Linked DNA regions of Homo sapiens: all the other regions are linked to region 1. The links come from fine-mapping of genetic effects on gene expression. A gene starts in region 1. Each other region holds a variant in brackets. All regions are shown on one strand. Distances are between the middles of the regions.

What was found.
Region 2: its variant is fine-mapped to the expression of NDUFAF1 in whole blood (INTERVAL, PIP above 0.99).
Region 3: its variant is fine-mapped to the expression of NDUFAF1 in anterior cingulate cortex (GTEx, PIP 0.97).

What each region holds. Positions count from the first base shown.
Region 1 is chr15:41,401,061-41,403,817 of GRCh38, forward strand. NDUFAF1 (NADH:ubiquinone oxidoreductase complex assembly factor 1) reads right to left here and starts at 1,436. Exons shown (of 5, transcript NM_016013.4): 1 at 1,084-1,436.
Region 2 is chr15:41,467,856-41,470,612 of GRCh38, forward strand. RTF1 (RTF1 homolog, Paf1/RNA polymerase II complex component) reads left to right here. Exons shown (of 18, transcript NM_015138.5): 7 at 2,402-2,537. Among named protein-coding and RNA genes, the nearest start is that of ITPKA, 25 kb to the right of the region's middle. The variant C/T (reference allele first, on the strand shown) is at 1,756.
Region 3 is chr15:40,929,094-40,931,850 of GRCh38, forward strand. It overlaps DLL4 (delta like canonical Notch ligand 4), which reads left to right and starts at 247. Exons shown (of 11, transcript NM_019074.4): 1 at 247-641; 2 at 754-1,023; 3 at 1,532-1,589; 4 at 2,410-2,673. The coding sequence starts at 576. RefSeq lists a silencer at 52-141. The variant G/C (reference allele first, on the strand shown) is at 1,196.

The sequences.
Region 1 (2,757 bases):
TTCTCTTGTCTCAGCCTCCTGAATAGCTGGGATTACAGGCGGGCGCCACCATGCCCGGCTAATTTTTGTTTTTGTTTTTGTTTTTTCAGTAGAGATGAGGTTCCACTATGTTGGCCAGAGTGGTCTCGAACTCCTGACCTCAGGTGATCCGCCTACATGGGCCTCCTAAAGTACTGGGATTACAGGCGTCAGCCACGGCGCCCAACCTTTTTTTTTTTTTTTTTTTTTGAGATGGAGTCTCGCTCTGTCACCCAGGCTGGAGTGCAATGGCACGACCCTGGCTCACTGCAACCTCCGCCTCCCGGGTTCAAGTGCTTCTCCTGCCTCTGCCTCCCGAGTGGCTGAAATTACAGGTGCCCGCCACCATGCCCAACTTTTTTTTTTTTTTTTTTAAGACAGAGTCCAGCTCTGTCCCCCAAGTTGGAGTGCAGTTGTGCGATCTCGGCTCATTGTAACCTCCACCTCCTGGTTTCAAGCAATTCTCTTGCCTCAGTCACTGGGATTACAGGCGTGCGCCACCACGCCCAGCTAATTTTTGTATTTTTAGTAGAGACAGGGTTTCACCATGTTGGCCAGGCTGGTCTCGAACTCCTGACCTCAAGTGATCCGCCCGCCTCGGCCTCCCAAAGTGCTGGGATTACAGGCGTGAGCCACCGCGCCCAGCCGACATTATCAATAAGGTTTGTTGATAAATCAAAACCATGTAAACAGTATGTTTTCACATGTATTATAAACGTTAAGGGAACCAGGAAAAATTAACAGTTGATCTGAGGTCCCGGAATTATGGATAATATTTAAATTCCCCCGCGCCGGTTGCACTTAAATGATTTTACCTCTACACATACCGAAATTTGAGAAACAAATGATAGCTCATAAAATGTTTTCCAAACCCTCCGTAGTGTTACTTCTCTAATAATATAACTTTAATTATAAATGCTTTGTTTCATTTTTTTTTTTCTACCAGTAAACAGAAAATCTAAACTATTAACTGGACAATACCGCCCTGAGGTTGACGGTGGGTTTTGACAACACAATCCACGCAGCTAGAAGTGAGTAGAATTAGTAAAGCTATCCATGCCTTACCATGTGCCAGAAACTGCTCTAAGTGTTTCACTGACGGCTCACAACAATCCTGAGAGAGGTACTATTATTATTTCAATTATAGAGACGAAGAAACTGACGTTCCAAGGCTAATTTACCCGAGGTCACACAGGTAGTGAGTGGCAAAATTCTTCCGCCTTGGCGTATACCTCCCGCACTCACGGCCTGGCCTCCGGAGGCTAGACGGTTCGCCGCGCTGGGGAGGCCCCCTCAACCCTCAAGTGCCAGGGCTCTGTCGCCTCCCCACACCCGGGACACACCAACCGCCGGCCTGCCGCCGCTTACCTCCCCGAGCCTATAGTGTACCTTCCGCCCAGAAGCCACTTTACCCGTATAGGTCCATCTGCTTTTCCCTTCCGATGCCAAACAAGGCGTCAGAACACCAAAGTTCCGGCCGAGTACAGAAGCCCAGGAAGGACAGCAAGGACCCCGTAGCCCAGCCAACTGAGGTTTTTGGAGGTTTTTGGTCCACTTGGTCGCCAGTTGTAAGGAAGCAGTGAGAATTCAGATAAGTTTTTCGCCTCTCCTTCCTGTATCCTTTCAGGCGGCAAACTCCATCCCTGCGTCTTTTTTTTTTTTTTTTTTTTTGAGACGGATTCTCGCTCTGTCGCCCAGGCTGGAGTGCAGTGGCGCGATCTCGGCTCACTACAACCTCTGCCTCCCAGATTCAAGCGATTCTCCTGCCTCAGCCTCCCGAGTAGCTGGGATTACAGGTGCGCGCCATCATGCCCGACTAATTTTTGTATTTTTAGTAGAGACGGGGTTTCACCATGTTAGCCGGGATGATCTCGATCTCCTGACCTCGTGATCCACCCGCCTCGGCCTCCCAAAGTGCTGAGATTACAGGCGCGAGCCACCAAGCCCGGCCCCCTGCGTCTTTCAAATAGAACCCAGTTATTGCTAACGCGCCTGTATCCCTTCCTTCCTTATCTGTCGCCTCGGTCCCCACAAGAACTGCCTGAGGCCTCAAAAGGCCGATTCTGCTGGAATTGCCCCCATGAATTCTTGAGGACCACCACGCACCTGGACAGCAGCCCCTCCTACCAGCCCTTCCCGAGTCTCGCCCCACACGGTCGCCAGTTGCTCAGGGCATCTGTTTGTACCTTGTGCACACCTCTCTTAAAGCACTTTTTTTTTTTGAGACGGAGTCTCACTCTGTTGCCCAGGCTGTAGTGCAGTGGCGCGATCTGCAACCTCCGACTCCTGGGTTGGAGCAATTCTCCTGCCTCAGCCTCCCAAGTAGCTGGGATTACAGGTGTGTGCCACCACACCCGGATAATTTTTGTATTTTTAGTAGAGATGGGGTTTCGCCATGTTGGCCAGGCTGGTCTCGAAATCCTGACCTCATGATCCACCCACCTCGGCCTCCCAAAGTGCTGGTATTACAGGCGTGAGCCACCATGCCCGGCCAAAGCACTTAAACATTGTTTGTTTTTGTTTTTTTTTCTTACTGCCAGGGAAGACAGAATCAACATTGTATCTTTCACTCACTTCTCACTTCCTTTGCCACGCTGTGAGCTTTCTTGGGTCCAGACTGCGCTGTTTTTCCTTTCCCCAGAATGTACCATAGCGGCGGGAATTTAGTGCTTAGTGTGAATTTGAGAGCATATAGTTCCGTAACACCTTTGTTCTCTAAGGTTCCGAAGGAGCTCACTA
Region 2 (2,757 bases), 67 kb after region 1:
CTCTACTAAAAATAATAAAATTAGCCAGGCCAGGCACGGTGGCTCACACCTGTAATCCCAGCACTTTGTGAGGTCAGAGCAGGCAGATCACGTGAGGTCTGGAGTTGGAGACCAGCCTGGCCAACAGAGTGAAATCCCGTCTCTACTAAAAGTACAAAAATTAGTCAGGCGTGGTAGCACATGCCTGTAATCCCAGCTACTTGTGGGGCTGAGGCACTGAAAATCACTTGAACCCGGGAGGTGGAGGTTGCAGTGAGCCAAGATCCTACCATTGCACTCCAGCCTGGGCAACAAGAGTGAGACTCTGTCTCAAAAAAAAAGAAAAAGAAATAATAACGTGTTCTGTCCTAGTAGCCACTGATGGTCATTACCTAGATAATTTAATTCATTAGGAGTTGCAAAATGGTGATATTTCGAATCTGTCATTCTTTCCTCATTCATTATCTAGCCTGCTTCTATAAAGAGAAACCTTTTTTTTTTGAGACGGAGTCTCGCTCTGTCGCCCAGGTTGGAGTGCAGTGGCGCGATCTCGGCTCACTGCAAGCTCCGCCTCCTGGGTTCACACCATTCTCCTGCCTCAGCCTCCTGAGTAGCTGGGACTACAGGCACCTGCCACCACGCCCAGCTAATTTTTTGTATTTTTAGTAGAGAAGGGGTTTCACCATGTTAGCCAGGATGGTCTTGATCTCCTGACCTTGTGATCCGCCCGCCTCGGCCTCCCAAAGTGCTGGGATTACAGGTGTGAGCCACCGCACCCGGCCTAAAGAGAAACTTCTAATCAGCTATTTAGTTACCCCCCAGGCACATTTTGAACAGGAAAGGCAAGATAAATGCTTGATTAATTTTCCTTTCGTTTACCAGTTTTTGAAAGAATGAGATAGTTCCTGGCAAGGTACAGTGGCTCACATGTGTAATTCAAGACCAGCCTGGGCAACATAGTGAGACCCTGTTTCTGCAATATTTTAAAGAGAGAGAGAGAGATAGTTTTTAGCAACTTCCAAAGATGACTGATGGGTTTTATTTATTTTGAATATCCTTGTGAACTCATCATTTTTAACGTGCTTTATGTGTTTTAATCCATTGCAGTTATTTTTCCTTCCTTCCATCCATCTTTTTCTCTCTCTCTTTTTTGAGACAGGATCTCTCTCTGTTACTCAGTCTGGAGTGCAGTGGCGCGATCTCGGCTCATTGCAACCTTCACCTCCCGGGTTCAAGCGATTCTCCCACCTCAGCCTCTTGAGTAGCTGAGACTACATGCGTGCACCACCACCTAATTTTGTTTTGTATTTTTAGTAGAGATGGGGTTTAGCCATGTTGGCCAGGGTGGTCTTGAACTCCTGACCTTAAGTGATCCGCCTTGCCTTGGCCTCCCAAAGTGCATGAGCCAACACTCCCAGCCTAAAATTTTTTTATATTATTCTTTTTTCTTTTTAAATCGTAAGTACACAGATTAACCTGCCATCTTAGATTAATGGTAGCATATTATACACAGTTTTCTCTCTCTTTTTTTTTTAGCCACCACTCCTGGTTTGTTTTTTGTATTTTTGGTAGAGATGCAGATTCACCATGTTGCCCAGGCTGGTCCCAAACCCCTGAGCTCAAGTGATCTACCCACCTCGACCTCCCAAAGTGCTGGGATTACAGGCATGAGTCACCATGCCTGGCCACGTTCCTTTTTTTTTTTTTGAGATGGAGTCTCGCTCTGTTGCCCAGGCTGGAGTGCAGTGGTATACAGTCTTGGCTCACTGCAACCTC[C/T]GCCTCCCGGGTTCAAGCGATTCTCCTGCCTCAGCCTCCCAAGTAGCTGGGATAACAGGTGCCGGCCACAATGCCTGGCTAATTTTTGTATTTTAGTAGAGACAGAGTTTCACCATGTTGACCAAGCTGGTCTCGAACTCCTGACCTCAAGTGATCCACCTGCCTCTGCCTCCCAAAGTGCTGAGATTACAGGCGTAAGCCACCGCACCCGTCCCCACGTTCCTTTTTTATAGCTGCATAGTAGTTCATTGGTAGATGTACCAGTGGTGATTTAGCCACTCTCCTATTTTAAATTTTCCTCAGAAGCTTCTGAAGTCATCATGAGTCTTTCCCCCTCTTTCCTCCCCATAGTCAAGTGTCTTGAGTGCCATAAAAGAGAACTGTCAGTAGTGTTGGTGACCCTTTCTGCCCACCTAGTATCAATCTTCCAGCCCTTTTTTCATCTGCTGGGGCCTGACATTTGGCACCTGAATAATTTTAACTCTGTGTTTTAACTCATTTCTGTATATACCCCAAGTTAGCACAATCCAGTCTAGAGAGGACGGAGCTGTGTATTTGAGTCCTCTTCCATTTCCAGTTCTTTTTCAAGGATGAATTCATTTTCTTGTTGAGAAAACCTAGGTAAACATCTCTTCTTTCTTTCTAGCTGAGCTCCTTGCCAAAAAACAGCCATTAAAAACCAGTGAGGTCTACTCTGATGATGAAGAGGAGGAAGAGGATGACAAATCCAGTGAAAAGTCAGACCGCTCATCACGAACATCATCGTCTGATGAAGAAGAGGAGTAAGCTCTTGTACATTTTGGTCTAGTAGGCAGGATAGGTGGGTTTTTGAGGAAGAGCTTGGTATCGTTTCCAAAATCTCCCTGGTTGGGCCACTAACTCTGACATGGTTACCTTTGGTTTGCTGAACTGAGTTCCCCAGCACGTCAGCCCATTCATTTGGCTGCTAGCCTGTACGCTTAGACATTTCACCTGGGCCTGGAAGGTAGGAACTGACTTCGT
Region 3 (2,757 bases), 470 kb before region 1:
TGGTCACCTCGGCACGCGCAGAGCTGGGGGACCTAGAGGTTGGGAGCGGCACGGAGGGGCGGGGACCTGCGCCCGACTGGCTGACGGGGAGGGGGGAGCGGCGGGGGCGGAGGCCCCCTCCGGGCGGCGCTGGGACTGTAGCAGCTAGAGGCCGGGAGGGGAGGGGAGAATGACCATGAGTCTGAGTGACAGGCGGCGAGGAGAGGAGCCAATATATATAAGGAAGGCCCCCAGCGCGCAGGTTTCAGTAGCGGCGCTGCGCGCAGGCCGGGAACACGAGGCCAAGAGCCGCAGCCCCAGCCGCCTTGGTGCAGCGTACACCGGCACTAGCCCGCTTGCAGCCCCAGGATTAGACAGAAGACGCGTCCTCGGCGCGGTCGCCGCCCAGCCGTAGTCACCTGGATTACCTACAGCGGCAGCTGCAGCGGAGCCAGCGAGAAGGCCAAAGGGGAGCAGCGTCCCGAGAGGAGCGCCTCTTTTCAGGGACCCCGCCGGCTGGCGGACGCGCGGGAAAGCGGCGTCGCGAACAGAGCCAGATTGAGGGCCCGCGGGTGGAGAGAGCGACGCCCGAGGGGATGGCGGCAGCGTCCCGGAGCGCCTCTGGCTGGGCGCTACTGCTGCTGGTGGCACTTTGGCAGCAGGTAACACGTCCCGCGCCCTCTCCGTCCCCTCTGCCGCGCTCTGGGCCTCAGCCCCGGGCACCAGCTGAGCTGACCGGTCCCCTCCCTCCTTCCCTCGGTCCCTGTGCAATAGCGCGCGGCCGGCTCCGGCGTCTTCCAGCTGCAGCTGCAGGAGTTCATCAACGAGCGCGGCGTACTGGCCAGTGGGCGGCCTTGCGAGCCCGGCTGCCGGACTTTCTTCCGCGTCTGCCTTAAGCACTTCCAGGCGGTCGTCTCGCCCGGACCCTGCACCTTCGGGACCGTCTCCACGCCGGTATTGGGCACCAACTCCTTCGCTGTCCGGGACGACAGTAGCGGCGGGGGGCGCAACCCTCTCCAACTGCCCTTCAATTTCACCTGGCCGGTGAGCACAGCCTGGGCGCACTGGGAGGTCGCAGAAGCCGAGAGAGGAGGCGCCCTGGGACCAAAGCCCCCTCCCCAGATTTCCTTGTACACACACCCCCACCCCCAAAAAGCCCAGGATGCATTCTTTCCTGGCTCTTCCCGACTCTCTCCTGAGACTGATCCCAGAAAAG[G/C]CTCTCACCAGTCTCCGTCTTCCCAGTTTATGTCCTCCCGTCCCCAGCTCTTGGGACACGATTTTCATTACCTACCACTCTGGGGCGGTACCCTACCACCCCCTCCTCCAGTGGCTCTCCCTTACACTCTCCCGTCTCTCAACCCTCCCTCTACCGGGGGTTCTCCTCTCGCCTTCCCTGCTCAAGCGCTACACTGTGCACAGCCCCGTTATGTTGACCCGGGCGCAGTAACTGAATCCTGCAATTAGATTAATTAAACAGGCTGCCGCAAGGCACCCCCACCTCTCCCCGCTTGCTCATCTCGCCATCTCTCCGTCCCCCCACCCCCTTTCCCAGGGTACCTTCTCGCTCATCATCGAAGCTTGGCACGCGCCAGGAGACGACCTGCGGCCAGGTGAGTAGCTCGCTCCGCCACCACAGGGGGGCGACACGGCGCAGCGCCGAAAGAGTTAATCTGTTCTAGGCGGGGGAAGTGCGGGCTTGGGGGTGGGAGGCAGGACGCTTAGCTTGGCCTGGAGCTGCGCCCCGCGCTGGACGCTCGGATTCCGCTCGCTGCCTGGACTCAGAGCACAATTGCGTTTCCTGCGGGTTATTTTTGGCGTGGGAACGCGGGGAGTACGGCGGTGAGAAAGGCTGAAGCTGCCAGCGCCGCTGACGGGCCCCTTCCTGTATTTTACACCTTTCGCGAATTCCGCTCCTTTGGAAAGGGAATAATGGCTTTGGGATGTTGTTCTGACACAGAGGAAAAGGATATTTCAGCAGCACAACAATTCTCACTTTGAAAAGGAAAAAAGAAAACCATTACCCACCTCTGGAGGCAGAACCCCTGAATGGGCACCAAAGGACCCCCTGCTCCCAGGGTCCTCTCTAGCCTGGGGAGCTTTTCTTTCTTTTTCTCTTTTTTCCATTTTGACCTCTTTTCCTCTTTCCCCTCCCTATCTGCCTCCAAGACCCTGGGATATCTTAACATCCTTCTATTGTCCCCTTTTTGAATACTATCAGGCCCCCTGCACATGCACACACGTAGGGCAGCTACGTAGCGGGGCTTTGGGTCCCTCTGGCCTGTTCTTGCTGGCAGGCGGGGGTCATCTGGATAACTGGGCTGATTGGTTGGCTGATCACCATCATCACAGCCAAGAAGGACATTGGCCAGCCGTCACTGGCACCCTTGGGGACTGGCGACCCTTCCCTGACCCGACCCTCTGCCCCCTCAGAGGCCTTGCCACCAGATGCACTCATCAGCAAGATCGCCATCCAGGGCTCCCTAGCTGTGGGTCAGAACTGGTTATTGGATGAGCAAACCAGCACCCTCACAAGGCTGCGCTACTCTTACCGGGTCATCTGCAGTGACAACTACTATGGAGACAACTGCTCCCGCCTGTGCAAGAAGCGCAATGACCACTTCGGCCACTATGTGTGCCAGCCAGATGGCAACTTGTCCTGCCTGCCCGGTTGGACTGGGGAATATTGCCAACAGCGTAAGCAGTCAAGCTCCCACCTGTGTGGAAGGGGAGGGTCCCCTGAGGAAACACAGTGGAGCTTCTTGGTCACAGCTTGCCTCC